Linked DNA regions of Homo sapiens. The protein of the gene in region 2 interacts with the protein of the main gene of each other region in a biochemical or structural test. Each region holds a gene or a part of one and is shown on either strand. Other genes may lie near its edges. The genes, in order: CACNA1D, MAST2, GOLT1A, TRPM1, CD46, PRR16 and ABCA2.

Region 1 (4,039 bases), on a different chromosome or scaffold from region 2:
CTCACTTCCTGGGTTACAGATTTTCTTTTTGCCTAGCAACACAGCTGAGTCAGCCAGGGCTGCAGCTTGGGTAGCCTGGAGATTCCTCTTGACTCAGGCCCCCAGAGGAAGTACCCCATTGTCGTTAGTGAGGCAGCACAGCCTGGAGAGGACTGACTTTACCAATTGGCTGACCTTTCCACGGGATCTGGGTCACTGAGCTGCAGCTCATGGCACACTTTACCAAAGCATCCCCTTGTGGCAGGGAAGGTTTTCTAGAAGGAGACAGGCTAAGGGAGAGAATATTTTCTCTAATCACAATCAGGAACTGAAGGTAGGTGGAGGACATGCTACTTGTCTGTTTGGCTGAGCTCATTTTATTTTTATGAAAACACGATTCAATATTGGCTCTTCTCCTAAAGGTATATTTTGAGCATCACTAGTTAGAAAGGGCACCTGATGACTCAGTATGAAGATTCATGTCCTACTCAGCTTTGACAACTCTGCCAGGCTCTGGAGGAACCTCAGAGATTTAAGAAAGGATTGAAAAGGTTCCCTTTAAAAAAAAAAAAACTAGCTTTGTAGCACTTTGCTGCCTGGTAAATTCTGTATGGTGATTGAGATGCTGCAAGAGATGTGTATAATAAGCGAAGTGGCTCTCTGCACTGATTGCATGAGCAGATCCACGTCCCATATGGTGGATATAGGAACTGCATATGTGTGCAAGTGTAGTTTTGCATCTGCACGTGAATCTATGAATATCTAGATTTTCTAACCCACTTAAGGGCTGCATATGACAGATTCTGGAGTTATCTATAAGCCATAAGGAAGGACTGATAGCATGATCAAGTCAAGATTATACTTTTAAAAGTCGCATTTTAAGACCAACATAATTTTTATGATGAAGTCTGTTAATTTCTGTGCCATTTGTGCTCATCTTTCTTTCCTGCACTCCCACCCCAATCTAGACCTCCAGAGTGAAAGCCAAATTATCTCTCAATCATATTTATTGGATACTCAGATGCTGTATCTGTCATCTACGTAGTAATGTTTGCTTGTCTTTTAGCCGACGCTGGCGTCGCTGGAACCGATTCAATCGCAGAAGATGTAGGGCCGCCGTGAAGTCTGTCACGTTTTACTGGCTGGTTATCGTCCTGGTGTTTCTGAACACCTTAACCATTTCCTCTGAGCACTACAATCAGCCAGATTGGTTGACACAGATTCAAGGTACAAGCAGAGGCCATTCCTTTTTTGTTCTGAACTAGAGATTTCTGTGGCTGTCCAACTGCCATTTGGTCTTATCTGATCGCTGCATGATGAAGTATCGCAACATTTCTAGTGAGGACAAACTTGGTAGAACCATCCAGACACAGCAACTACCAGAGCGAGGGTGCCATCTGTGCCGCGTGGTGAAGCACCTTGGAGCCACTTAATGCCAAGCATCTAATTGTCCTAACCCTGAGCCAACCTAGGACCAAGAATTCTTGAAGCTGGAAGGGACCTCGTAATCCCTGCTCCCTGCCCTCATCGGGGAAGCTTCATTTTCCCCTATAGTACTTCTGGCAAATGGTTTTGGTTCCCCTGCTTTGAATGCTCCAGCACTGGGGTGTGGGACACTCATCCCTAGAGACAGCCCATTCTGGGTTTGACAGTTTTGAGCCTTTGAAAAGTCCTTCCTTTCATCCAGTCAAACCCGTTTCCCTCTACCTCTCCAGCCTGCTTGGTGATATTTTCAGCTGTTAGAAATGACATTGATAGGTGACTGCTTCTGATATCGTCATGCCATAAATGAATTCAGACAGATCTTTTCTGTGTGATTGAATGAAAAAATATGTATAACCTGATGGTGTCAACGCAGAATCGTAGGCTTTTAGGGCTGGAAGGAGTCAGAGATTATGTGATGAGCTGCCCCTTCCCATTTTGTCATCAGTGACACTGAGACCTGGAGAAATCAAGTAACTTCTCCAGAGTCACACACATAGCTAGTAGCAGAAGCAGGACCAGAACCTGGTGGACAGACTGTCCACGCGAAGGCCACGTTTCTGTCCTGAGTGAGGTAGTGAAGAGAGAGACAAGGTATTGGCGTATTTCCTGTGGGGCCTGATAGGGAGGGAGGTGTGAGGGGCACGAGCAGTCTGAGTGTCTTGCAGGAGACCCTGAGGATGGGTGCCCCTTTGTCTTTCCAGATATTGCCAACAAAGTCCTCTTGGCTCTGTTCACCTGCGAGATGCTGGTAAAAATGTACAGCTTGGGCCTCCAAGCATATTTCGTCTCTCTTTTCAACCGGTTTGATTGCTTCGTGGTGTGTGGTGGAATCACTGAGACGATCTTGGTGGAACTGGAAATCATGTCTCCCCTGGGGATCTCTGTGTTTCGGTGTGTGCGCCTCTTAAGAATCTTCAAAGTGACCAGGTAAGGAAATGTGGGTCCCACTGCAAATGTTTTATGAACATGAGGCGGCAACCAGTCACATCCCCGGGCAGGTGATGTTCTGCTCTGTCCTGCATGGGTGTTCTGAGCTGACACCCTCATCTTGACTTATAGGCACTGGACTTCCCTGAGCAACTTAGTGGCATCCTTATTAAACTCCATGAAGTCCATCGCTTCGCTGTTGCTTCTGCTTTTTCTCTTCATTATCATCTTTTCCTTGCTTGGGATGCAGCTGTTTGGCGGCAAGTTTAATTTTGATGAAACGCAAACCAAGCGGAGCACCTTTGACAATTTCCCTCAAGCACTTCTCACAGTGTTCCAGGTGAGTCCTCCCTCCATTCCCCGAAAAGCACTTCGTGAGCAGCAGCTAAAACTCCTCTGCCTTCTTGTCTGCTCACACTCAGGAAGACAAAAGGACTCCATTTTTGTTCATCTCTGCCCTAATCATAGCCTGGTAAATTTTGTGCCATTTAAGTTATTCGTTCTGCATCATCCTCCAGCTGTCTATCTTAAGTGATGTAATTTTTTTAAAGACTTCTAGCTACATTACAAAATAATAAACCAAAAAAACCGTTTTTCACACTCAAGCTCTTCCAAGAAAACTTTTTGATTGATTTTATGAGGTTTCTTTGAAATAGACTCTAAAATTCTTTTCTCTTTGGTACTTTTTGATGGCAGGCCAGTTCATAATCCTAGTTATAATAGATTTACACAAGAAGTGAATTCTCATGCCTCCATGCTTTGGTGTGTAGTTGGAGGAATCAGAGTGGTAGGAACTGTGGCAGCCATTGGTCCCTTCTGTCCTCCTCCTGGGATGCAGTGAGGACACAAAGATTCTGAGGGTGCCTGTCCTGTGGGGCCTCTGCAGGCAGTAGCTGAGAAGGGAGCGGTGGTTGCAGAGAGGCACCGATGGCTCTGCTGCTCAGAGCAGCAGCACATGCTCCCCTGACTCTACGCTGAGGTGCTCAAAACCCTCCTCCTTGGACAGGGTCTGATGGGGAAGTTTAAAAGACCCACCTGTCCTCATTGCTTTTCCTGTGTGATGTGAGCTGCAGAGCCCTGCCAGAGAGGAAAGGCAGCAGACAGCTGGGTCCTGTGGTGGCCCTTTCCATGCCCAGCTCTCTGCTGTGGATGAGTCACTTACCCATTTCTGAAGAAATCCAGAGACCAAAGGGAATGATCTGGACAATTCTCTCCCACTTGGTCATTTTCAGGTATATATAATCTGCTGTAAGCCATAGTATTGTTGTTTGAATTATACTTAAATTTTGGCTGCTGATCAGTGATTCTTTTTTAAAAAAAAATTTCTTTCAGAGAAACTGGTGTCTTTTTTTTTTTTTGGTAATGCATGCATATGGCACAAAATTCTAATGTTACAAATGAATAATAATTCTCCCAGCCAGCCACAAATTTCCTCTTCTAGGAAGCAACCACCATTAAACAGTTTCTTGTGAATTCTTAGATCTGCATTTTCTGATAGCTACAACTCAGTTAAGCTACCTATAGGAGACTTTCCACAGACAGGAGCTCACTGTACGTGCTGTTTTGCATCTTGCTTTTATCACTTTGAGTGTCCTCAAGAGCCTTCCTGCTTGGTCCATAAAAGGCTGCCCCTCCTTTGAAACGCTGC
Region 2 (4,039 bases):
TTGCTGTGTAATTTTCCATTGTATGAATGTATTGTGATGGTTACTAAAACTTATTTTTGTTTTTGAGACAGGATCTCACTCTGTCACCCACGCTGGAGTGTAGTGGTGCCGTCATAGCTCACGGCAGCCTTGAACTCCCAGGCTCAAGTGATCCTCCTGCCTCAGCCTCCCAAGTAGCTGGGACCATAGGCACATACCACCATGCCCAGCTAATTTTTTAATTTCTTTTTCTTTTTCTTTTTGAGACAGAGTCTTGCTCTCTCGCCCAGGCTGGAGTGCAGCGGCACATTCTCAGCTCACTGCAACCTCTGCCTCCCGGATTCAAGCGATTCTCTTGCCTCAGCCTCCCGAGTAGCTGGGATTACAGGCATGCACCACCATGCCTGGCTAATTCTCTATTTTTAGTGGAGATGGGGTTTCACCATGTTGGCCAGGCTAGTCACGAGCTCCTAACCTCAGATGATCTGCCCGCCTTGGCCTCCCAAAGTGCTGGGATTACAGGCGTGAACTACCACGGCCTAATTTTTTATTTTTTGTAGAGGTGGTATCTTACCATGTTGCTCAGGCTAGCCTCGAACTCCTGGGCTCAAGTGATTCTCCCACCTTGACCTCCCAAAGTGCTGGGATTATGGGCATGAGTGCCCAGTTTGTTTTTCAAATTGAAATATAATTCATGGCTACTTGTGAAAAGTTTTCATTGTGAAATAGTTACAGAGAGAAATATGTAAAAGTCCTGGGAACCTTTAAATTACTAAATCTGATAGTCTTTTCCTCATCTTGTCTGACCTCTGTGAACTATTTGTCACTGTTGACTGTGTGTTCCTTGTTGACATTTTTTTCTTTTTTAATATTATAATATCCATTCTGTTACTGCTTCTCTAACTGCTCTCTTGTGTGTCTTTGTCTTGTGTTTTCTCTTCCTGTTCCTGAAATGTTCCTTGAGGACATGTCCTCTGTCCTTAGCTTGATCCTTTATTGTGCTCTATTTAGCAGGCTCATTCTGTTTGTAGATGTTGAGGATGTAGAACAAGGGTCTGCAGTCCTCTTTATTTATGGCATTGTGTCACAGAACATCCTTGTAAAGTGAGCTGAGTCTCTTTAGGTGTGACCTCTTTCCTTAGCTCTACATTTCCATTTTTGTGCTTAACATTTCCACCGTAGACTCATCATTTGTGTTCTTAACATTTGTGATTTTTTTTTTTTTTTGAGACAGGGTCTCACTTTGTTGCCCAGGCTGGAGTGCAGTGGTGGGACCTCAGCTCACTGCAACCTTCGCCTCCCAGGCTCAAGTGATTCTCCAGCTTCAGCCTCCCCAGTAGCTGGGATTGCAGGCGTCCGCCACCACGCCTGGCTAATTTTTGTATTTTTAGTAGAGACGGGGTTTCACCATGTTGGCCAGGCTGATCTCGAACTCCTGACCTCAGGTGATCCACCCACCTCGGCCTCCCAAAGTGCTGGGATTACAGGTGTGAGCCACTGTGCCCGGCCTAACATTTGTGAGTTTTATAATTTGATAGTGACCTTGAAAGTTCATAATTTGTAATAATTTATGATTTTAAAAAGGCCAAAATTTTCATTGTATGTGTCGAGACTGGTTGAATTCTATTTATTTGGGTAGTAAGAGCCCAGCTGATCAGCAAGCATCTACATCTCACACGTAACTTTTTTTTCCCTTTCTCATGACATGGAACAGTGCTTGTTACAGTTTTTATTATACTAGTATTTAAGAATACGTTCTAATCAGGATGTAGGACTTGGATCTCCAGAAGGTCAGTGGTTTACTGTATCATGAAAATAGAATAATTTCTGTGTTGAAATGTGCTTCTCTCTGTATCTTTCCTTTTTGTCATCCAACATGAAATTATATCCATGGCTTTTTTTGTTTGTTTTATTTTGAGATGGAGTCTTGCTCTGTCGCCCAGGCTGGAGTGCAGTGGCGCGATCTCGGCTTATTGTAACCTCTGCCTCCCAGGTTCAAGCGTTTCTCCTGTCTCAGCCTCCTGAGTAGCGCATGCCTGGCTAATTTTTTGTATTTAGTAGAGATGGGGTTTCACTGTGTTGCCCAGGCTGGTCTCGAACTCCTGAGCTCAGGCAATCCACCCGCCTTGGCCTCCCAAAGTATTAGGATTACAGGCGTGAGCCACCGTGCCTGGCCCACATCTGTAGTCTTTTACTTCTTCTCCTTTGACTCCCTTAGCCAGTCTGGCATTAGGTTCTCTCGATTCTGCCTTCATGAAATCTTTCAAACCATTATTCCCATTGTCACTACCTTAATTTCATATTTATAAACTTTAGTCTTGGTTGTTGCAGTATCTTAACTGTATTTACTCAGTCTTCAGTCTCTTAACCTCTAATATATTTCACGTTCTATTAACAAAAGATTGGAACTCATTGCCTCCCTGGCTAATGGTAAGTGCTTTATAAATACTCGTTAAATGTTCATTTCATTTCTCCTTATTCATATACCTTCATTAGCTTCTTATTACCCATAGAATTAAGCCTGAAGACCTTGGCATTCAAGATCTACTTGATACTTAGCACTTTTTGTTAGAAGAGTCAGTTAGTTGCCACTTCTCTTGGTTCCTTAGGACCGTCTGCTTTTCTCGATCATGGCATACAATATTAAAATTATCTTGTTTCTCTCATTAGTAAGTTCTTTGAGAGTCAGACTGTTCCATTTACTTCTGTATACCTAGGGCTTAGTATAGTACTTGAAACATAGTTATTTGTGTATTTATTAGAAACATAGATATTTGCTCAATGTCCTAATTGATTGTAAGTCAGTCAAATGAATTCCTCTGAGGCTGTCTTAATCATCATGGTATCTTCAGCCTCTAGTATTTTAACTGGTATGTAATAGACATTCAGTAAGTAATTGTTTATTGTTAGGCACTTTGATATACTTTAATTAGTCATCAGTTTGAGAAGCTCTTTATTCTCTGCTTCCGCATATTAAAATTCTACTCAGTTTTCCAGGCCTAACTCAAATGCCACAGAAACTTCTGTGAGGCCAGGTGTGGTGGCTCATACTTGTAATCCCAGCACTTTGGGAGGTTGAGCAGGCGGGTTGCTTGAGCTCAGGAGTTTGAGACCAGACTGAGCAACATGGTGAAACCCCATCTCTACAAAAAATACAAAAATTAGTCGGGGTTGGTGGTGCGCGCCTGTGGGCCCAGCTACTTGGGAGGCTGAGGTGGGACCCCTGGAAGTTGAGGCTGCAGTGAGCCAAGGTTGTACCACTGCACTCCAGTCTGGGTGACAGAATGAGACCGTGTCTCGTAAAGAAAGCAAAAAACAAACAAACAAAAAACAAAAACAAAACCACACACCCAAAAAGAAACTCTTCTGCAAAGTTGTTTTTCCACATGGGATCCTAGGAGGATCCTTAATTGGGCTTCAGGAAATCTGTGAATGTCCTGAAATTCCAGTTCTCAAAATTCTGTGGTTTAAAAGTGAAAGCTTAGGTTCCAAGAGATCAAATGCAAAAATGACTGGAAAGCACATAATAAGTAGGTGCTTAATAAGTAGTCTTATCTCATTTTGTTTCTGTAACATATTGTTTGATCCATTCCTGGTCATATAAAGTAGATGCTGAATAAATATTTGCTGAATGAAAGGATGAATCAGTGTTTTAGCACTTTCAACTTTCTGTGTTCATTTGTATTTCATTTTTGCTTTTAAGTTGCATGTTATTGAAGGTAAGAACTATGTCATCATTTTGTCTAACAATGCAGAGCTAAAGGCTTTGCTCACAATAGGTGCTCAGTCATTATTTATTGAATGAATGAATGGAGAATGATTCAAATATTTTGAATTTTGGTAATTTGAGTAATAATGGTTATATGATAGGAGTAGACAAAGGAAATAGAATATTTTTGAGGATGGCAGAAGATGAGTTCAACTTTAGTTCCTAAAATACCCTCAGTGTGACAGAAATTTTAAAAAATTATTTTAATGGAAATCAGAACCTCTTTCCTCTGCATTACAGGGTTAGTACATTGGGAAAAGCATAGGGCAGAAAGCACACAGAAGGGAAGCT
Region 3 (3,702 bases), about 160 Mb from region 2:
ATTCCACTTATAGGAGGTTCCCAGAGTAGTCAAAAATTCATAGAGAAAGTAAAATGGTGGTTGTTGGAGGCTGGTGGGAGGGGAATGGGGAGCTACTGTTTAATGGGTGTAGAGTTTCAGCTTTGCAAGACGAAGAATTCAGGAGATGCGCTTAATACCACTGAACTGTACATTTTTAAATGGTTAGATGGTAAGTCTCATTTTATGTGCACGTTGCCACAATTTAAAACTTAAAAAGGTAACAATTTAAAAACAAAGCAACAGAATGAATTTTTATTTATTGACTATCATAGTGGCAAAGATAAGTAAAATGAACAATTCTGAGTGCTGGAGAGGGTTAAGGAAAAAAGGAACTATATATCCGGTTATTGTACAAATCGTCTTGAGGGGAGCGATCTGAAATATGTTTATCAAAATGTCAAAAATGTAGCCCTTGACCAAACGAGGGGGCCTTCATGTCCTGCACTTCTAGGCTACGCTTGCTGGCTCTGAGTGAACTCCTGCAGCTTCAAAGAATGCCCTGAGACACTTACAAACCTTGGGAATGGGGGCTTACTGTCAAACCTTGGGAATGGGGGCTCACTGTCAAACCTTGGGAATGGGGGCTCATTGTCAGTGTGGGTCCAACCTCGGCAGAACTGCCCAAAGCCACTGGGCTGAAATGAGAGTTGGCCGAAGAGTGTGTGGGGGGCCCGCAAGGTGCCTGCTGCAGGAGGGAGGGAGGACAATGGGAGCAGGTGCAGGCTTGGGTCTTGGATATAGGTCCCAGCTGAGAAGAGGAATGCATTCCTAACTGATGACTTCTGTTTTCCCAATCCAGTGGGAAATGTCACCACCTGAGAGTGGAGACAGGGCAATTCTGAGGAGGAAGGAGGCAGTGTGGAGAGTTGCTCAGGCGGGCCAGCCTCTTGAGTAAGGACCAGGAGAGCTGGGTGGTTCTGAGGCTCTTTGGAGCTGGTGGTCCTGAGTTTTCAGTGGCTCCCTTCTGCGCAGTGTGGGCTGGGCTCCAGTGGTTCTCAGTTGCACAAGGCAGGAGCAGAGGCAGCAGATGCTATGTTCAGCCTTGATACTGATGTGGATAATGTGGCTTTTGAGGACAAGAGGAGGCTGAGAGTATAAAGTGGTCAGGGCAGCACCAGCTTCCACACAGGGCTGCAGTGAGGACAGCATGCCACTGTGTACAGAAGTGACAGCACAGTTCCCAGGTGCCAGACAAAGCTTCATGCCATCCTACCTTCCCCTTCCCATCCCACCATCCCCTGAGAGCATGAAAGCTGAGATTCCTGGATGGAAGTGGAGTCACCCCCATAGAGGGCACCTGTCCTGTGGCAATGGGGGAAGTTTCAGGGTCCCCACCTGCTCCCCAAAGCCCTTTCCTCCACCACCTCCTTGCCCATTGCAGAGATTGGTGTGGGGATCACCGGTTTCGGCATCTTCTTCATCCTCTTTGGAACACTCCTGTACTTTGATTCCGTGCTCCTGGCCTTTGGAAACGTGAGTCTCCCAGCCCTGTGTCCCCACTCCCCTGCCCCAACCTTTCTGAAGTCTCTATTGCCAGGATAGTCCTGGCAATAAAGACTTACAGTTTATTTAAGTCTTTAAATAAATCCCTTAAGTAAATCCCAAGTTTATTCAGACCATGCCTATCCAGGGGTCAGACATCATCAAGCCTGGGCAGAGGAGGGCACAGGAAATGGACGCAGAGCCCGCTGGCACCAAGAATCTGAGGACCTGGATTCTCACACCGAGCTCTGGGCGAGACCCTGGGGGTTCTAAGAGGACTCAGACACTGTCCCTGCCATCTGAATCCCACTCTAGGGCTAGAGATATAACATGACATACATGGCTGGGAGGAAGGCAGGGGCCATGGTAAACACATTTAGTATGAAACAAGGGGCTTAGTGGAAAGAGGGCACACTGAATTGGAGAATGGTGGAGAGGAATTTGGAAAGGAAATGGGTGTGGAGGTGAATAAAGCACTTCCAGGGGGATTGGAACAGCAGGAGAAAAGGTGTGGGGAAGGAGCAGGGAAGCATGGGATATGCTGGAAGAAAACCAGAGAGTTCAATTTGATGAGAGCCTGGGCACTCTTAAGGGATTCATTAGGAGCCAAGCTGAAGACGGTGATAGGGCATCCAGGGGAGGGACTGGAGGGTTATTCTGTAGGCAGTGGAGCCTCTGAAGGTTCTGTGTGACTTTCAGTATGGCTGCCTAACCTACTTAGGCCTCAATCTTCACTTCTTTGGAATAAAAATCCCTCCCGATTCCATCTTCCCCAGATGGTATGGTGAGAAACCAAGTCCCATATGAAAAATGCTTGGGCTCCAGGGAATTGGGTAGGCAACTAGAAACCGTCAAAGGTTTCTCATCCATCCCCCTGCCTCTGCGCAGTCCTGTTCCCAGCCAGCAAGACTTATCAAGGCTCTGGGATTCTGCCACACTGCTGGATGGCCCTCGCTCAGATGGTCTTGAACAGTTAGCACATCCTGTCCCAGCCCACCGCCTGGCTCCAGGCCTAAGTCCCTCACTCCTCAGGGGGCTGGTGGGTTTGCTTCATGCTCCCCTCCCTCCCCTACAGCTGCTGTTCCTGACGGGCCTGTCCCTCATCATTGGCCTGAGGAAGACCTTTTGGTTCTTCTTCCAACGGCACAAACTCAAGGGAACCAGCTTCCTCCTGGGGGGTGTGGTTATCGTGCTCCTACGCTGGCCCCTCCTCGGCATGTTCCTGGAAACCTACGGATTCTTCAGCCTCTTTAAGTGAGTGCAAATCCCTATAACCCTGGACAGACCCACCAAAGTGTCTGAGTGGCTGAGATCACCCCAGCAGGGAGTGCAGAAGCTGGGACTTTATCCTGCAAGAGATGAGAACCATGGACACCTTGGAAAGGCCCCCTAAAGTAGGCTGAAGGGTACTTTGGAGGGATTAGCCCATCCATCAACAAATACTGATAGAGTGCCGACTGTGTTCCCAGCACTGTGCCCCCAGCACTGTGCCTGTGAGCAGGGAAGAGACACGAGGCCTGCCCTCAAATCTCAGTGATCCAGCCGGAGAGGAAGGGCAGTGAGCTAACATGTTCCAGGCACACTCATGATCATCATCTTATTTTATCACAACAACCCACTATAGGATTATCCTCTACTTCATAGATAAGGAAACCAACACTCAGAGAAGTTGCCCCCGGCCCAAAGTCTCAAACTAGTATGTGAAAAAGGTCGCCCTTAACCCAGGGAGCTCTGGCTCCTGACCCCTGTGTCATCCCCTGGCCAGGCCTGTGTCAGCCCTGGGCCTGGGAAAAGGCAGGGTGGAACTCAGCCATGATGTGTGGCCACTGTCAGGCCTGTAGGCACTTAGAGGGGAGCCCAGGGTAGTGTCATAGAGGAAGCAGGACTTGAGAGAAGCCTTGAGGGATGGGTAGGGTCTAAGAGAAGACTGGAGGGCACTGAAGGAAAAGGAAGGAAGGAGTCTCAGAGAAAGTGGGGGTGGGAAGGAAGACTTCATATGTCTACACGGTGGTGTGGAGAGAATAGGGGTGGGATTGGGACAATGGACCCTGGAAGAATGATGGCTTCTGCAATCATGGAAAGGTGTGGGGCTCAGGAATCCCCAGGTTCTCACAGGAGCCCCCGTTTGCTGAAGGCAGCCCTGAAACCCCCTGATTAGCCTGAATGGCCTAGGCCTCAGAGACTTTGGGAAGTGTGGCT
Region 4 (3,500 bases), on a different chromosome or scaffold from region 2:
TACAGGTGTAAGCCACTGTGCCCAGCCCAGTTATCATTCTTGCATTCTGTCACATATTATGGCCTCATTGGGAAAACCAGGACCTCAAAGTCTGAAACTTTCTGACTCACATATGGTTAAACTCCTGAATAACCCACCCACCTGATGTTGGGGCTACTTCAAGGTGACCACTGAGAAATATTGGAAGGTATTCCTGGCTGGAAAAATATCCCCCTGGCTGTCCTAGCCTATGGTCTGAAATTCCCACCCTGATGGCTGTCCCTGAAGAATAAGATGATGAAAGGGGATCTGGACCAGCCAGGGAAATTGCAGTTCAATTCCTGGCTTCTCCCTTATGACACTGGGCCAATCACCAAATCACCAAGAGCCTTAGACAGCCATTTGTAAAAGGTGAACAATCACAGTGCTTCCTTTAACTCCTGCAGTTGTAAAAATATCAGAATATGTGTTTGGCTAGCAAATAATTTTGTAAACGTTAAGTAGCATACAAATGAGGTACACTGTTCTTGTTGACGTTTCTGTCTTCAGTGGCTGGAATAAAGTGCAGATCTTGGACGCAGCCACTTGGACCACTAGTGGCCCATCAGTTAATGACCTGTTCCCAGAGTCCTCCCTCTGTCTCTATCAGTTAATAGGACTCTTCAAGAACACAGTGGGTACCAACTAACTTTTGGTGGCAGAACCTGCAGGCATGGCTCTGGGAAGCAAGAGGTGGCAGGAAGATTCCAGGAAGTTGGGATTCTGGAATGGGAAGGAAATGGGAGTGGAGGCACATTTGCCTACTTCCTAATTTTATGCCACACTGGCCATGACAGATCACACTCTGAGCCTATTTCACCAGCTGTCCATTAGTTGTGATGGGAATTAGTTGATCGATATTAACTAAAGGCAAGTGGAAGTATCGTTGGTCTCAGCTCTGAAGGGCTTCAGATAAAAATCTGCCAGCATTGGTTAAGAGAAGATTGGAGAATTTCAAATGAGCCATTTCAGAGTTTCTAATTTGCTTCCATGAGGTGTTTCTACAGTCAGGGACTCTTACATATGTTGAATAACTCTGCTGTGTCCACCAGAGTAATTACAGCTAAGTTCATTTCAGCAGACATGCATTGAGGGTCTGCTTTGTGCAAAGCCCTGACCAGGAGATATTGGAAAAATGAACTAAGATATCCTGGACTCCGCCTTTGAGATTTCCAACCCAAGCAAGGATTGATATTTTCAATCTTTAGGAATATGGTGGCCAAATCACCTTCTTTTCGAGCAACAGAGTAGAACAGGTTCTTCTTGGCTTAGGCTGGAGTCCTCGAAGCTCCGTGCTGTGGGAAGTGACAACTGAGCACCCCTTTGCTGTCCCTGCCCTGCTCAGAGCCCTAGGCGAAGGATGACAAAGGGAAGCCCACAAGTCACATGGCCAGGTGAAATGGGGTGTTGTAAAAACTTACAAGTCCAGAAAAATTAGAGATGTGAGAACAAAAAACATTCAGTCATCGACCAATGTATTCTTCGAGATCTGATTCTCGGAAATCTACAACTTTTCCTAGTAGGCCATCCCCATTCTACCCACTCTGCAGCATCACAGTCCCATACATGATGATTCCCAATGACCATTCGCCAGGACTAGATGGTCTCCCACAAAAATCTTGCCAGTAATGGGAAAAACAAACTGCTCTTTCAGATCATTTAACAATTGTTTGACGTTAAGAATTACTGGAGTATAAACATGCTCCAAGAGATTATACCAGTTATTGTAATTCTAACCAGTTGTTATCATTGTTTCTTCTGGTTGAGGTTTGCGTCTTTCTCTCTAGTTCGACCTCAGCTTTCGTCTGACAGTGACAGCTCCCCCTCAGGACCAGCAAGGATGATGCCCCTTCAGGAGCAGATGGCTCCTGCAGCCCTCTCCAGATATGTCCCCACCTGGCCATCTTAGTCTACATGAAAGGCCCAGCATTACAGAGATATTTAATAATCACATAATACTTATCAGCAAATAGAAAGAATCCTACTAAATCTTTGAGAAATTGTTTTCCTGTTAAAACACTTAAAAAATAACAACTAATTACAGGGAACAAGAACCACTGGGCAACAGGGTGGGCAAGGCCATCACCATGGCGAGCACTGAGGGTTATTTCGTGCTAACTTGTGAACCTGGGGCAAAGCATCCCCATGTAGCCCAGTGAATGTGATTTGGTAGGTGGCTAAGGTAAGACATCTAGGTGAGTCATTTTCTGTTGACCTAACAAGAAGCAAGGTTAATCTTCTAATCCCCTTGGGCAATCAATCTCCTTCTCAGCCTTGTTTCCACTGTGATGGCATCAGCCCAGGAGGACTGCGTGCCTTTGCCAGCACTTACTTGTGTTGATCTTCTGCAGGGAGATGTGCTTTTCCAGCAGCCTTCGCAGCTTCACCTCGGCGCCATACTTGCCCAGGGTGCCATTGTCAGCCAGGATGAAGTGGGTGTGGGAGTTGTTGAGCACAGAGAGCTTACTTAGAGGGTTGGACATGGTCTGGTACACTCTTGTTACCTGACAAAGTGCACAGCGCAAATCAGACCTGCAGGACTTGGATGTTAAGACCAACAAGGGAAGCAAGCACAATACATATGTGTGGAGTGACTGCACTAAAACTTATTCTCACATCTCTACCCTGCCTTTTGAAGGTTTTATTTTTGCCAATTGTTACATTAAAATAGAAAGAAAGTTAATTGTTTTAGATAATGACAACCTAGCAATTGCACCCCTGGCATTTATCACAGAGAAATGAAAACCTATGTTAACCTCAAATCCTGCACTGGAATGTTTATGGCTACTTTACTTGTAACAGCCAAACTGTTCCTCAACAGACAAATGGTTAAAGAAACTGGTGCCTCCATATCATGGGATGTCAGCCAGCAGTAAAAAGGAATGAAGACCAATACATATGGCAACCTGGACGCGTGTTCAGAGAACTATGTGGAGTGAAAAAAAAGCCAATCCCCAAAGGTTACATTACTGTATGATTCCATTTACAGAACCTTCTTGAAATGCGGGGTGGTGCAGATTAGTTGTTTCCAGGGGTTAAGGAAGAGGTGGGGGTAGGAAGGAGTGAGGTATATGTATATGAAAGGGCAACAGGAGGGATCCTCGTGTTGATGGAAACATTCTGCACCTTGACCTTATCAATGACAGTATCCGGGTTGTGATCTTGCATTATGGTTTTGCAAGATGTTACCATTGGAGGAATGGGAAAGGCTGCAAGGGAGCTCTCTTATTATTCTTACAACTGCATCTGAATCAACGGTTACCTCAAAATCAATCATTAATTTTAAAAAACTGCCAACATTTGCAGAGAAAACACTTACATCCTTTCCAACCAGGTCTTCCTTATTCTCCACGATGCCCCATGGAGCAATTCCTATAGCACAAACCCGGCCTCTGGACTTGGAGGAGTGGTCTTTCAAGGCATCCCCTACGTGGCTGATAACACCTGTGAGCAGCCATTGGTCATATTTTAGGCTCTTTTAC
Region 5 (4,039 bases), about 160 Mb from region 2:
CTTTAGAACTTGTTTCTACGCAAACCTTATGGATTTGTAAAAATATTCCATTGATAATATTTTGTACTCACGTTGTAGATATGTAACTTTTAGAATATACAACTGATAGATAAATCAAATATGCATATCGTGTTCCATTAATACAAGATTTAAGATTCAAGTGAAGGGATTATGGGTATTTCAAAAGATAACCAAGTAATATGAAAAAAGTTTGAGTTCCTTATGAGTAAAGCTTGTACTTTTATGACTTAGCCCAAACCTGATGATCAGTATAAAAGGAATATATATCATAAAACCATGAGTACCAAAAGTCTTAAAATTATTAGGTTTGATTTCAAAGCTATTTCTAAAACTATAGGGGAAAACAGTTTTTAAAAATCAGTAAAAATGAATGTATATTATCTTTCAGAAATTTCAAAGCACCTAATCTTAGTCTGTGTTCCAGGATTCATTCTAAGTCTTTTGTTAAACTGTAAGCTCTTTAACTAAAATTTGAGTTTGATGTTTTAAAACCCTATTTTCTTTAGAAGATATGTACTTGTACATTTTTCTTCTATTCTAAACCCACTCACTTTTTACATTTTTATATATTAAAAGACACAGTTAATTGAGGTACCTTATAGATCTAACCCCTCTCAGCAATTTTAACTTTAACCCTATCAGTTTTACTGCAATCTGGTAAATTCAGAGAACATAAGAGGGAAATCGGATAGTGTTGTTTTGAATCCCCCAGTTTAACATGTATAAATAACAACTTTAAATGAAAAGACACCAAATTGGGTATTTAAATGATATGCCTACATAGCTTCTTGCAACTAGCTAAGCTATATAGACAAGTGGAAACTTTCATTATAAAAATTCCAGTGAATACAACTGTCAAAGTCTCCACAGTGAAATACTTTAAATTTAATTTTGGCCATTAGTGCAATTTTGGAAATAGGGAATAGGGTAGAGAAGGCCTCATAGTGAGTGGTCCATGATTTGCTAAATAACTTAAACCTCAAATCCAAAAGAAATTTTTCTTAAAGTCATAATAGCTGTAGGAACTCTGCACAGATGTTTTTATGTTGCAGTGATGTTAGAAGTAGCTGAAAATATTTTTAGCAAAGAAATGCAATTGGTAGGACAAACTAATGCAGGCATTTTTTTAAAAAAAAAAAAAAGATAGCATGCAATACAGATTACAAACTGAAGCTGCACAAAAGCATGTTAAGTATAAGAAGGACCAAGAAGTTAAAAGAAACATGCTTTAATTTACCCTTTCTTCTTCCTCCTTTGAAGATATCTGTACGGGACAACACAAATTACTGCAACTCCAACAACTATAAGAAACCAGGAAACAAATGACATATAATTCTGAAAACTAATCACCAAGATTCAACATCTAGCAGAAGAAATAAATGTTGGTTACATTTCAGTGGTCAAATGTTATTTAAGCACCTACACATTTATATTCCATCCAGACTCTTTGCTATCTAAATCCAACTCCCCATAATCACTTACACAGTCCATAGTAAGTCAGAGAAAAGTCCTTGCTTAATTTAGAAAACTATCAAAAGCACATTTGGGAAGCCAACTAATATTACTGATCATCTTGAGAAAATATGTATTACTTAGGCTTTGTTACTAAGTAGATATACAGAATATAACAGAGTATAAAATCACTAACACAAGGTAGGTAGTTAAGTATATCAAATAAAAAGTCAGGTTTTCCTAAATCGGTTTAACCAATTTACAAGCTGAAAAAACTATAGAAACTGAAAAACTATTTTTAAAATGCATGTCTTCACAATAATTTTTTGACTTAAGTGGTGTCAAAATTTGTGATACTTACCTATGGCAATAACAATCACAGCAATGACCCAAACATCTGAGAAAGAAAACAGTTCCAAGATGTTGAACACATGGATCTCCAGATAGCATTTATTTCAATCAGATCATCTAAACACTTGATATGGTTTGGCTGTGTCCCCACCCAAATCTCATCTTGAATCGCAATTCCCATAATCCCCACGTGTTGTGGGAGGGACCCCATGAGAGGTAATTGAATCATGGAGGCAGTTTCCCCCATGCTATTCTCATGATAGTAAGTTCTCACGAGATCTGATGGTTTTATAAGCGGCTTCCTCCTTCACTTGGTTCTCATACTTCTCCTTCCTGCCATCATGTGAAGAAGAATGTGTTTGCTTCCCCTTCCTCCATGATTATAAGTTTCCTGGGGCCTCCTCAGCCCTGCAGAACTGAGTCAGTTAAATCTCTTTCCTTTATAAATTACCCGGTCTCAGACTGTTCCTTACAACAGCATTGAGAATGGACTAATACAAGACTACAGAGGAAAAAAAAATTTTTTATATAGTTTTAGCATGACTGCTAGGGCATCCAGGTCATTTTGATCATAGAACCCTTCTAACCAGTTTCCAGGTTAAGGGTTCCACTTGTGAAACTCTTAATGGGAACCTCATTTTTCACTGTTTTTCTCTATAGCTACCACATCAGGTTATTTAGCGGTAAAGTTATTAGAGTAATTAGAATTCACTATAGTAAAGGAAAATGATTTTTGAAAAGTATTATCCCATGAGAGTTGGTTTAGTTCAACAGTCATTCTGTCATTTCTTATTTTGGTAGACATTTAATTTGTATTTTTTCCTCCAAAAGTGATCTGTAGAGTGAGTCATAAATAAATTTCTATTATTCTATTGCCCAGATGGTATTTACAAAGTCTTCACAAACAATACTTTATCTTATCAATCCCCTTCCCATCCTCTCTACTTCCATACTCTGCCCTGCCCCAAAATTAAGACATAGTCCTAAATACCAATAGGATTCCCATAATAAATGAAACACCAGGGCACATGGATAAAAAATATACAGAGAAATTTGAGAATACATTTTTGACTATCTAGAGAACACAAAATAATCCTATAAAATCTTAATTTTTAGAACTGTTTCTGTCCCTAGTACCTTTGCTTCTAAACTGCCATTACTTTTATTAAATTGCTATAAGTCAAAGCATAAAGTGCTATGTTCAACTCTGCTCTTCTCATCTCATAAACAGTTATCAAGTGTTTAACAGTTTAAGATGGCAACAGATTTACTTGGACCACAGATTTTGGAGGTAAGGCAAATACTAAAAAACAAGCCTAAGGTGCATTATATAAAATGATTAACCATTACCAAACTAGTCTAAGAAATGAAAGGTAATAGATTTTTGTTTTTACTTATTAAGAAATCTTTATTTTTCATTGGCCTATATCACAACTGCACTTCATCTTTTTTTTTAACATGCATTGTGTAAACTGCGTAAGCCTACATCAAGTGTGTTAAATCAGCGTGTTACAGAAAAAATAAACCCAACTTAGATTGCTTTAAGGTTCATGTATATAAGATATGAATAGAAAGAAAATTTATCGACAGATTACCATCACAAAATAACAATATAATGTGGAAAGAAAATTGTGTTTTATATATTTTAACCTACATACAAACACAGCATTTAAGAAAGTTATCTTACCCTACCAAGGATCCTATGTTTGGGCACCTCATAAAAACTAATTACCTACACGTTTCTACACATACTACCACTTATATTTGTCATGATAGCTATACCAACCCAAACTGTCAAGTATTCCTTCCTCAGGTTTAGGATATCCTAGGAAAAAAGAAGAAATATAGATTAAATTAATAAAAGAAGGAAAGAATTAAATATAAAGCTTAAAATCCTTTAAACTCATAGGGTGATTTTTTTTCACCTTTGTAGAAAATCCCTTAAAATATAATTTTCCTTATAAACTATATTAATGTTTCTCAAAGTAGTATCATAAAAATTTATAAACTTACATTTAATGTCATAATCTTTCTTCTTCCTCCCCACTCACATTTTCTGTGACAACATTCTGTGGTTCAACATGCAAATTTATCTGTACTATTTTCTCAAAATTAGTCTATAAATCCAATGTGATTCTAATTAAAATTAAAAGATAGAGGGATTAGCCGGGCACAGTGGCTCACGCCTGTAATCCCAGCACTTTGGGAGGCCGAG
Region 6 (4,679 bases), on a different chromosome or scaffold from region 2:
CTAGAAGAATAGTACTTTCTCTTTTCCCCTACCATTAGCTTTTGCTAGTTTTGACAATTTTGGGGAGTCTGTAAACCTGATATAATTATTTTAATGTTATATTTTTTATAAAATAAAGAATTTGAGGAGAAAAAGGATGTTTTAAAAATCTAATTCTCCCTACCTCAGAGAACTCAAGCATATTACTTATTTCACACTTTTAATCATTTCTTCTCTTTTTCTTTTCTCCAGTTTGCATGCTGCAGACTTGTTCTTATAATCTCTTCTTAAGTCTTTCCAGCAGCATCTGCTTTTCACCTTTTCTCATTTCTTCCCCTGATTTTTCAATGCAGTTTTCAATGGTTTTCTTTTGACACCACTTTCAAATTTCAATTTTTTCTTCTGTTCTCTTTCTTCCTCTATATTCCACATATGACTTCCAAAGGTTTTGTAAAGATGAATTGTCCAGGATTAAGAGAGTGATTGATTAAGAGCCTACAGAACTGGGAAGAGGAGAGCTGCCAAGCTTTTCTTTATGTGTAGCACAGTGGAGCTACCCAGAGTGTGAGAAGCAAGAAACAGAGAGCCTTGCTAAGGCACGACGAAAAGGGGAAGCCTATTAAAAGAATGATCTGGAGGAGTGTGCAGTGAAGAAAATAAAGTAGAGCCAGCCTGCTGGGTCAGTAGCTAATAGCCCATGGGTTTACAACTAAGGAAGTTAAAATTCTAGCTAATGAGAATTGTAGACACCTACTGAGAGTGAACCGAAGGCTTCCTATTAACTTCCCTTCTTGGGTCTTTTTGACAGAACAGTCAGAAAGTTGTTTCCTATTTGTTTAGTAGCAAAAGAGTTGAAATGGAGGTTTAAAAAATGATGAAAGAGAAGTTGGAGGCAATCTCTTACTCAGCTCCTTCACGAGGTCCAAATACGATGTCTCCCCCACTCCACTCAAAATGTAAATCAGCATAGGTCACAAAAAGAGGAAGGACAGTTAAAAAAAAAAAAAAGAGTTGGGCCAAATAAGACATACAGCCAAGATGACTGAGACAATCAGAGAGGATTTGGGGTGTGGGGACTTCAAATTAATAAATCCGGTATTAGCTTTGTGGAATTAGCAGGATTAGGGTACCTCTTTCAAGAACACTGGTTGAATTTCATGGTTTCAATAGATGACCATTAGCTGTTATGTGCACCCCCCCCCCCCTTTTTTCTTGCAGAAGTTAAGAAGTCTGCTTAACTCGCAGGTCACCAAGAGATTGATTAAAGGCCTCTGGACATCATTTGGGTTTGGATAAATCTGTAGGGCCACTTTACAGACTGTCTCCAACTCCTGATCCCACTGTGGTTCTTTCTGAATTGATCCAGGTCCCTGCTAGCAAGTGAAGCAGAAAGAATCCAGGCTAGTTGTGAGATGACATACAGCAAGCAGGCTGAGATGATGGGGACATTTCAGAACCAAGAGGAGGGGGCGGGCAGGACACGGACTTGTCTCCCCCACCTTGATGCCAAGGTGGCATCTGGGAGATATCTCGAAGGGCAACGTCGAGGGGACTGCAAGCGTCAACCCTGGCGCGGCAGCACGGCGCCCCTCTCCGCGGGCGGGGAGCGAGCGCGTGTGCGCGAGAGCGCCGGGCGGCGGCGGGAGGAGGCGCAGGCGCGCTGCTCGCCCGTCTGCAGCCCCGAGCCGAGCGCCGCGTCTCGGGAGTTGATGGCAGCACCACTGTGCGGCCGCCCGGCCGAGCGCGGAGCGCAGCCACTCGCCGCTGCCCAGGGAGCGCCCAAGATGTGGGGGGACCGGGGCGGCAGCGGCCGTAGCAGCGCCAGGGACGGGGGCACGCAGCAGCCTCCGCTCGCCCGCCTGTCCTGACCTGCCTCGCTTGCCCCCAAAGAATGTCAGCCAAGTCCAAGGGGAACCCCTCCTCGTCCTGTCCAGCCGAGGGACCGCCGGCAGCCTCCAAAACCAAGGTGAAGGAACAGATCAAGATCATCGTGGAGGATTTGGAATTAGTCCTGGGCGACCTGAAGGACGTGGCCAAGGAACTTAAGGAGGTGAGAGGCGCAGGGGTGGGGAGGGAGTTCGGCACCCTTCGACCCCTCCGGGGTCCCCTTTCCGATTTTCAGCAGGGACAGCCAGATTTCCAAACTCCTGGGAAACTACAGAAAAGGCGCCTGCAGACGGACTTTCTTTGCTCCTGGAGTCCTGAGAGGAGTTGTTGTTGCACTTTTTAATTTTTTTTTTTAATCAGGAAGAAATCAACTAGTGTTTTAATCGATGGACCTGGGCTGGTGGGAGGGATGAACGCACGCGTGTCTCTGAATCTGTGTGTGTGACGACGGGGGAGAGGGTTAGCTGGGGGTGTGTCGGCAGAGGAAGTCGTGAGCAGCCCGGCTGGAGCGTGCAAGATGCTCCTCTCCTGCCCTATTGCTTCCCCAGAGTCCTTTGGCAAGTCCGCTGCCTATCTGTCAGCCTCCCCAAGTCAGGGCTGAAGAGGGGCCGGGTTCTGGGCCCTGGGCCAGATCAGGGAGGGCAGCCTGGAGGAAGCTTGGCTCAGACTACCCTCCCTGTCTCTCGAGCCTCGCTGTAGGGAAGGCGACCCGGGCTGCTGGCAGCCTTGGGGCTAAGGAGGGGGTCTGGGACTTTCTCACTTTCTCAGTTTCTGAAGCATCCCCTGCTCTCCTCCGAACGTCGTTACCAGTAACTCTGGGCCTTCCCGCCACCCTACCTCTGCTTCCTTCCTTCCACCCTGTCGCCACTTGGCATTGAACCCGAGAAGCAGGACGCGCAGGAGAGTGTATGTGTGGCCGGGGTCTTGCCATTGGCGTCCTGGCTCTCTGCAGCTGGGACTGCTTCGGTTCTTCCCCGCTTTTCCTATCCCACTTCGGTTCAGCCCTACTCCCGCCCGCCCCTAGCCCCAGGTGATCCAGATGGAAAGAAGCAGAGAAGGTGTCAGGGCTGAGGCTGCGTAACTCAGGCGGCGGCTCCGGGCGGGGGCGGGGGCCGGGCTGGGAGGGGTGGGGTCTCCCGAGCCAGGCTGGCTGCCGGCGGCGTCGCGGAGCTGGTAGCAGAGTCCCAGCGCGCCGCTCACTACTGAATGGGGTCCTGGTGCGGTTCTCGGTGAGGGAGTCCGCAGCTCCGCTGCGTGAGAGCTAAGACTAGAACTTCGAAGGTGGCGGTGGCTGCAGCGGGAAAAGGGGTGGGGCGTAGTCTAGGTCCAAAATTGTAATCCTGTTTCTGAAGCCAACGGGGAGGAGACTGAGGGTTGTTTGGATGACTGGCCTCTAGAGATTAACCTCCTGTATTCAATTTCCAAACCAAATTTCAAGAGCCCCCTCGTCTTCCTCCCCTTCCCCCGTTACCTCTATGAACTGAACTCTGCATTTGTTACCTAATGCAAGTCTGTTAAAATGGGCCATTCGTCACCAGGGTTAAGTTTGCCAGTGGTAAATGTCGTTCCTGTAGGTTACTCCACAGACAGAACATAATTAGTACTGAGGTCCTGAGAGTGGCTGTTAGTATACATAGATTCAGGGATAAAACTTGTTCGTGTTTTCAGGGTTTCTGTAGGATTATTGCTTCACAACTGGTTGACAGATGGTGGGGTTATGCATTGAAATTCAATTCTAAAAATGCTGTCCCTTTCTTTGTTATTCTTTTATATGACATCTTTGGTAGACTGTGTTTTCATCTGAAACATGGCGTTTTAAAAAATGAAATTGGGCATGTTCCTTTCGGCAGAATTGTGCTTAATAGTTGGTGAGGTTTCTATGGGCGATGTGGAAAACCTACAGCGGCACAGAAACGTATTTACTGTTTTCATGAGGCTGAGACTAAAAGAAAGGTAGTTAAACAGAATTCTGCATCTGTGAGCCATACTTCCTTATGTTTTAATGTCAGTCCACTCACTTTTTTTGCACAGAATAAATGACAAGAAACTGCACATGGTCCTGGTTTTGCTTTGCATCATTATTTATGGACATTTAGAGATTAAGTAGTGAAATCTTCAACCTCCCTGTGGTTATTGGTTAGAATCACAAAAATGTAAGTCAGGAAATCTGTTGATACCACTTTCTGTGTCTTCATTACTGAAGATTTTTTAAGGTTAAAAAAAAGGTTGTTTATAAGAGGAATAAAAAGCAGAGATAATGTACAACCCAGTAGATGAAACTATCTGACAGATCTAGAGATACAATTTTGACTCAACATTTTGGAAGATTTGTTTGTCTTAAGGATCTGTTTGAGTAAAAATCTCACCATGAAACTGAAATTTATGACATAAATAATGTGATGTGATTGTTAATTACTTTTGTGTGGGTATCATCATCCTAGATTTGCACAAGAAAATGTACCTACAATGGCCAAATCCCAAAACATCGGCTATTCATAGAATATGAATGAAAATATTTTGAGAACAAAGTATTTATAGGGTATGTTTAACCTATGACATCTTGCAGTTGTCCAGCATGTATCTTTTTAGGATAATCCTGCATATGTGAGTGAACATGTCTTTGGTATAGTTTTGGATAAAGAAATAACAAAACTTTGTACATTACAAAGCTTGTTGGTTGCTGTACATGAATGTTGCTATTCATCATATTCAGTATTCTGGCAGCTTAAAATTAGTACGTGTTAAATATAAACTGCTATATTTAGAATTCTAATTCCTTTATTGGCAATGCTATGCTTTTAGACCATAATATA
Region 7 (4,039 bases), on a different chromosome or scaffold from region 2:
CCACCACATCGTGCCCCACAAAAGTGTCGATGATGGCGCGCTCCATCATGTCTGTGGGTGGGGGCAGCCATCAGGTGCCGGGCAGGCCCTCTCGTCCTCACACCTGTCCTCCCCCATGAATCCTCCAGCCGGTCTTCCGGGCCTGCTCCTCACCCTGGATCCAGACGAAGCCGTAGAGGAAGTAGAAGCGGCCGCCAGTATTGGGCCCAGGCCGCCAGTAGGCGCGGCGGATCTCGTTGGTTTTCTCGGTGAAGCTGGAGTTCTGGCGGATCTTGTAGTGCACGTGAGGCGGGAGCGAGCCGTCCTTCCGGGTCTGGAAGATCACACCTGGGGCCGGGAGGTTGGGGCGGGGCCAAGATGCAGGGGCGGGACCAAGGCGTGGTGGGGGGGAAAGCAAGGCACGGGGGCGGGGCCAAGGTGTGGGGGCGGGGACAGGAGGGTCCAGGGAAAGGTGGGACAGGGCTGGGGTGGGGGCCCCAGGGGAAAGGTGGGCAGAAGTGGGGAGGTGCAGGGAGGGGGCGGGTTGTGGGTTGGGGCCGTTTGGAAGGGGCAGGGGTGGGGAGGGGAAGTGGCGGGTGAGGGGGGAAGGCCAGGGCGCGGCCAAGGAGTGGGAGGGCACAGGGGGACGGGTGGGGCTGGGCTGGGGAGGAAGAGGTCTGTGGGGGGCTGGGGCGGGGCGGGGAGGGCAGCTCACTGGCAAAAACAGTGACGTTGTCCTGGTAGGCCTGGTTGAGGGTGTAGTTGACAATGCTCTCCTCGTCGGGGAAGCCCTTGAAGATGTCCACGCTCACCTAGCGGGAGGGGCATCGCTGGAGCCCGCCGTGGGCATGTGCGAGGCAGGGGGTGTCGTGGGTTGGCTCGGAGGCCCCACCGCTCACCTTGGACATGAACTGGATCCAGCCGCAGGCCGCGTTGTCAATGGTATCCAGCTGCTGCAGGAGGGCCATGCCACTGGGCAGCGAGAAGTTGTCCTGTCTCAGGGCCGGCGGCAGCTCATCCAGTGACAGGTTCAGTGCCTCGGGGTGCAGCCGCAGCTCTGCTACATACTTGGGGTGGAGGGGCGGCTCAGAGGGGGACCTGCGCCTGCCGAGCCGGGCAGAGAGGGGCTCCCCACACCACCCACAGCCGCCTCCCTCGCGGGCACCCTTGGCACCTGCTGCAGCCAGCGCAGGTGTTGCTGCAGCCTGCCCTGCTCCAGGAAGCTGCGGATCTCCGCCGAGATGTTGAGCCAGACCTGGGCATAGTGAGTCACGTTGCCCACAAAAGCAAAAGTCTCGTTGGCCTGCAGGGGGTGAGGCAGGGGCATGGAGTTTCTGGACGGACCCCCACCGACTTGGGGGCTCTCACCCCACTCACCTCCCCAGTGGCTGGTCCATTGCCAACAACTAACCCTCCCCACCTTTTTTTTTTTTTTTTTCCTGAGACAGGGTCTCAGTCACCCACGCTGGAGTGCAGTGGTGCAGTCCCAGCTCACTGCAGCCTCCACCTCCCAGGCTCAAGGGATCCTCCCGCCTCAGCCCTCCAAGTAGCTGGGATTACAGGTGCCCACCACCACGCCTGGCTAATTTTGTATTTTTGGTAGAGACGGGCTTCCGCTATGTTGCTCGGGCTTGTCTCAAACTCCTGAGCTCAAGCGATCCTCCCACCATGGCTTCCCAAAGTGCTGGGATTTCAAGCGTGAGTCCCACGCCCGGGCTCTCCACTCCTTTCTGCGGCGCTCAGGTGAAACCTGCTTTGCCCTCCACTCCCAGGGCAGCACGGCCTCCGGACCCCCAACTGCCCAGCTGTGCCCACCAGCTCCTTTGCTGGACCTGTCTCCATGTGTCCCTTAAGCACCCAATGCTCCACCCTCATCTGTCCCACCCTCATCCTAGGGACCCCCTCTACACCCAGGATTGGCCTCGTCCACAGGCCCTCCCCTCCCAGGCCAATGTCCAGCCCTGGCCTCTGCTTGTTCCAGACAGGACCCCTCACCCAGAACCCAAACTGCCCAGCTGCCCGCCCACGAGACACTCTGGAAGGTCTCTGGACACACCCCTCCTCCACCAGCACTGCCCTGGACCGGCCACCCCCAGCCGGAGGACCCTGCCAGAGCAGACTCTCCAGTGCCTTCCCACAGCAGCCCCTGGAGCTCCCGAAAGGAAAAGCGACCCCCTGGTCCCCCACCTGCAGAGCCTGTGTCCCATCCGAAGCTGCACCCCGTACCCCTCCCGTGTCAATTCTGCCGACACCCTCTGCCCAGGGGTCCCAGGCCTGCAGAGACCCCCTCCCACTCTGCCTGTCAAACATGGAGCGTCCCAGACCCGTGCACCTTGAGGATGACGCGGTCGACCTCAGAGCCCGCAGGCGCGTACAGGATTTTGGGGTTGCTGGTCATGAGGTGCACGAGGAGGCCCAGGTTCCGCTGCTCCTTGCTCGTGAAGCCCAGGGAGCTCATGTTGCCCCGCCGCAGCGCCTCGGGTTCAATGGTGCTGGGGTAGGGGACAGGGGGCCGGGCCAGGCCGTTAGGGGGCAGGGCCGCGAGAGTGGGAGGGGCATCGGGATGGGGCAGGACTTCGGGGCACAGGGCAGGGCGCCAAATGAGACCTCCAGAGCCAGAGCCTAGATTCAGGGCTCACGCCCTGCCCCTGGCTGTCCTCCTCACCCCCATTCCCCTGCCGCCCACCTACCGGTTGTTGCCACACAAGATGGGCTGCAGGCCGGCCCAGAGCTGTACGAAGGCTGAGCACTGGCCCTGCAGCGTGTCCGGGGTGGCCAGTGCTGCAGCAGAGGGTGCGCCCTCCTCAGCGGTGGCGTTGGGGCCCATGACTGCCCCTGCCCCAGTGCCATTGGCCGCCCCACCCGCACCACTGGCTGGGGGTCCGGGGGTCCGGCCAGTGCAGGCACCCTGGGGCAGTAGCAGGGCCAGGGCCGACAGGACATCCACATCCTGCAGAACCTTCTGGGCATCCAGCAGGTCCCCCAGAAGCGCCTGCAGCCTCCGTGGGGGTGGCGCCTGTGGCGAGGAGTCCGAGCCGTTGGGGGCATCCAGGCCCAGCTGAGGGGAAACAGGCACGTGGGCAGTGCGGGGTGAGATGGACTGCAGGTGGGTGATAGGTCAGGAGTGGAGCAGGGAGACAGCAGCAGGGAGACACAAGCTAGGGGTGCTGGGAGGGAGTCTGCAGCCTGGGTAACGGGAGCCCAGGACAGGAGCTGGGATGGTGAGCAGGAGTGGGGCACCAGCCATGGTGCCATTGGATACCCACCCACAGGCAGCATCCCACGCACAGCCTGGGCCCAGGAGCCCTGAGCTCTCCAAGCGGTCCCAGCCCCTCCTTCAACTCAGGCAGCAAGCAGCGCAGCGGGCAGTGGGCAGGCAGGGCCTCACCTGCTGGGAGACCTTGGCCACGTCCAGCTGGTTCCGGAGCTCAGCAGACAGCCCAGAGAAGCGCCTGGCACGCGCAGCAGCCTGCCCACTGCAGACAGCATCCCGGTAGCCCTGCAGGGCTCCCTTCTGACTCTCAGGCACAGTGAGGATCCGGCCCAGCTCCCCCGAGCCCGGCGTGCAGGTGAGCTGCTCCAGGAGGGCAGGAGCCAGCAGCAGCTCCTGGGATGGGCACAGGGGTCCGTGGAGCCACGGCAAGGACTTTGTCCCCAACCACTAGGGCCTCAGGCCTCACCCTGCCCCACCCACTGGCTGGCTCTGGGGCTGCCTGGGTCCCACGACATGCCTCTACCCCTCATGCCTGCCATAGACCCCTGGGACCCTCCCCCTCTCCCAGGAGGAGCTCCAAGTCACCAAAGGGGCCCTTTCCTCACCCACGGAGCAGAAGCACCCCCAGAGGCAGGCAGCACTCCAGGCCCATCCCACACATGGATGCCCTCACCTCCATCCGGAACAGGGGATTGCCCCCTAGGCGGCTCCAGGGCTCCTGACCCTTGTGGAGGCCAGACTGTGAATCCAGGGCAGATGAGGGACCAAAGAGCAGGTGGTAGACCTAGGAGGTGTGGGGGAATGGCTCAGATGGGGTGTGGGGGGCGTGGCTCAGATGGTGGGGGC

Evidence for each region.
Region 1: the proteins of MAST2 (region 2) and CACNA1D interact in a test that uses a peptide from one of them, tested with the Homo sapiens proteins (one large-scale study listed by IntAct).
Region 3: the proteins of MAST2 (region 2) and GOLT1A interact in a test that uses a peptide from one of them, tested with the Homo sapiens proteins (one large-scale study listed by IntAct).
Region 4: the proteins of MAST2 (region 2) and TRPM1 interact in a test that uses a peptide from one of them, tested with the Homo sapiens proteins (one large-scale study listed by IntAct).
Region 5: the proteins of MAST2 (region 2) and CD46 interact in a test that uses a peptide from one of them, tested with the Homo sapiens proteins (one large-scale study listed by IntAct).
Region 6: the proteins of MAST2 (region 2) and PRR16 interact in a test that uses a peptide from one of them, tested with the Homo sapiens proteins (one large-scale study listed by IntAct).
Region 7: the proteins of MAST2 (region 2) and ABCA2 interact in a test that uses a peptide from one of them, tested with the Homo sapiens proteins (one large-scale study listed by IntAct).

The regions. Positions count from the first base shown.
Region 1 is NC_000003.12:53,721,269-53,725,307, forward strand, and holds part of CACNA1D (voltage-dependent L-type calcium channel subunit alpha-1D), read left to right. Parts: intron 1-1,045; coding exon 1,046-1,206; intron 1,207-2,165; coding exon 2,166-2,391; intron 2,392-2,523; coding exon 2,524-2,731; intron 2,732-4,039. UniProt on the Homo sapiens protein: Voltage-sensitive calcium channels (VSCC) mediate the entry of calcium ions into excitable cells and are also involved in a variety of calcium-dependent processes, including muscle contraction, hormone or neurotransmitter release, gene expression, cell motility, cell division and cell death.
Region 2 is NC_000001.11:45,806,354-45,810,392, forward strand, and holds part of MAST2 (microtubule-associated serine/threonine-protein kinase 2), read left to right. Parts: intron 1-4,039. UniProt on the Homo sapiens protein: Appears to link the dystrophin/utrophin network with microtubule filaments via the syntrophins. Phosphorylation of DMD or UTRN may modulate their affinities for associated proteins. Functions in a multi-protein complex in spermatid maturation.
Region 3 is NC_000001.11:204,200,688-204,204,389, reverse strand, and holds part of GOLT1A (vesicle transport protein GOT1A), read left to right. Parts: intron 1-1,402; coding exon 1,403-1,494; intron 1,495-2,578; coding exon 2,579-2,757; intron 2,758-3,702. UniProt on the Homo sapiens protein: May be involved in fusion of ER-derived transport vesicles with the Golgi complex.
Region 4 is NC_000015.10:31,063,726-31,067,225, forward strand, and holds part of TRPM1 (transient receptor potential cation channel subfamily M member 1), read right to left. Parts: intron 3,463-3,500; coding exon 3,338-3,462; intron 2,523-3,337; coding exon 2,351-2,522; intron 1,417-2,350; exon of another isoform or gene 1,307-1,416; intron 1-1,306.
Region 5 is NC_000001.11:207,782,902-207,786,940, reverse strand, and holds part of CD46 (membrane cofactor protein isoform 3 precursor), read right to left. Parts: intron 3,650-4,039; coding exon 3,611-3,649; intron 1,871-3,610; coding exon 1,835-1,870; intron 1,323-1,834; coding exon 1,259-1,322; intron 1-1,258. UniProt on the Homo sapiens protein: Acts as a cofactor for complement factor I, a serine protease which protects autologous cells against complement-mediated injury by cleaving C3b and C4b deposited on host tissue.
Region 6 is NC_000005.10:120,462,617-120,467,295, forward strand, and holds the start of PRR16 (protein Largen), read left to right. Parts: upstream 1-1,683; 5' UTR 1,684-1,870; coding exon 1,871-2,029; intron 2,030-3,009; exon of another isoform or gene 3,010-3,095; intron 3,096-4,679. UniProt on the Homo sapiens protein: Regulator of cell size that promotes cell size increase independently of mTOR and Hippo signaling pathways. Acts by stimulating the translation of specific mRNAs, including those encoding proteins affecting mitochondrial functions.
Region 7 is NC_000009.12:137,018,025-137,022,063, forward strand, and holds part of ABCA2 (ATP-binding cassette sub-family A member 2), read right to left. Parts: intron 3,978-4,039; coding exon 3,867-3,977; intron 3,587-3,866; coding exon 3,368-3,586; intron 3,038-3,367; coding exon 2,670-3,037; intron 2,472-2,669; coding exon 2,312-2,471; intron 1,283-2,311; coding exon 1,154-1,282; intron 1,047-1,153; coding exon 879-1,046; intron 792-878; coding exon 695-791; intron 328-694; coding exon 154-327; intron 52-153; coding exon 1-51. UniProt on the Homo sapiens protein: Probable lipid transporter that modulates cholesterol sequestration in the late endosome/lysosome by regulating the intracellular sphingolipid metabolism, in turn participates in cholesterol homeostasis.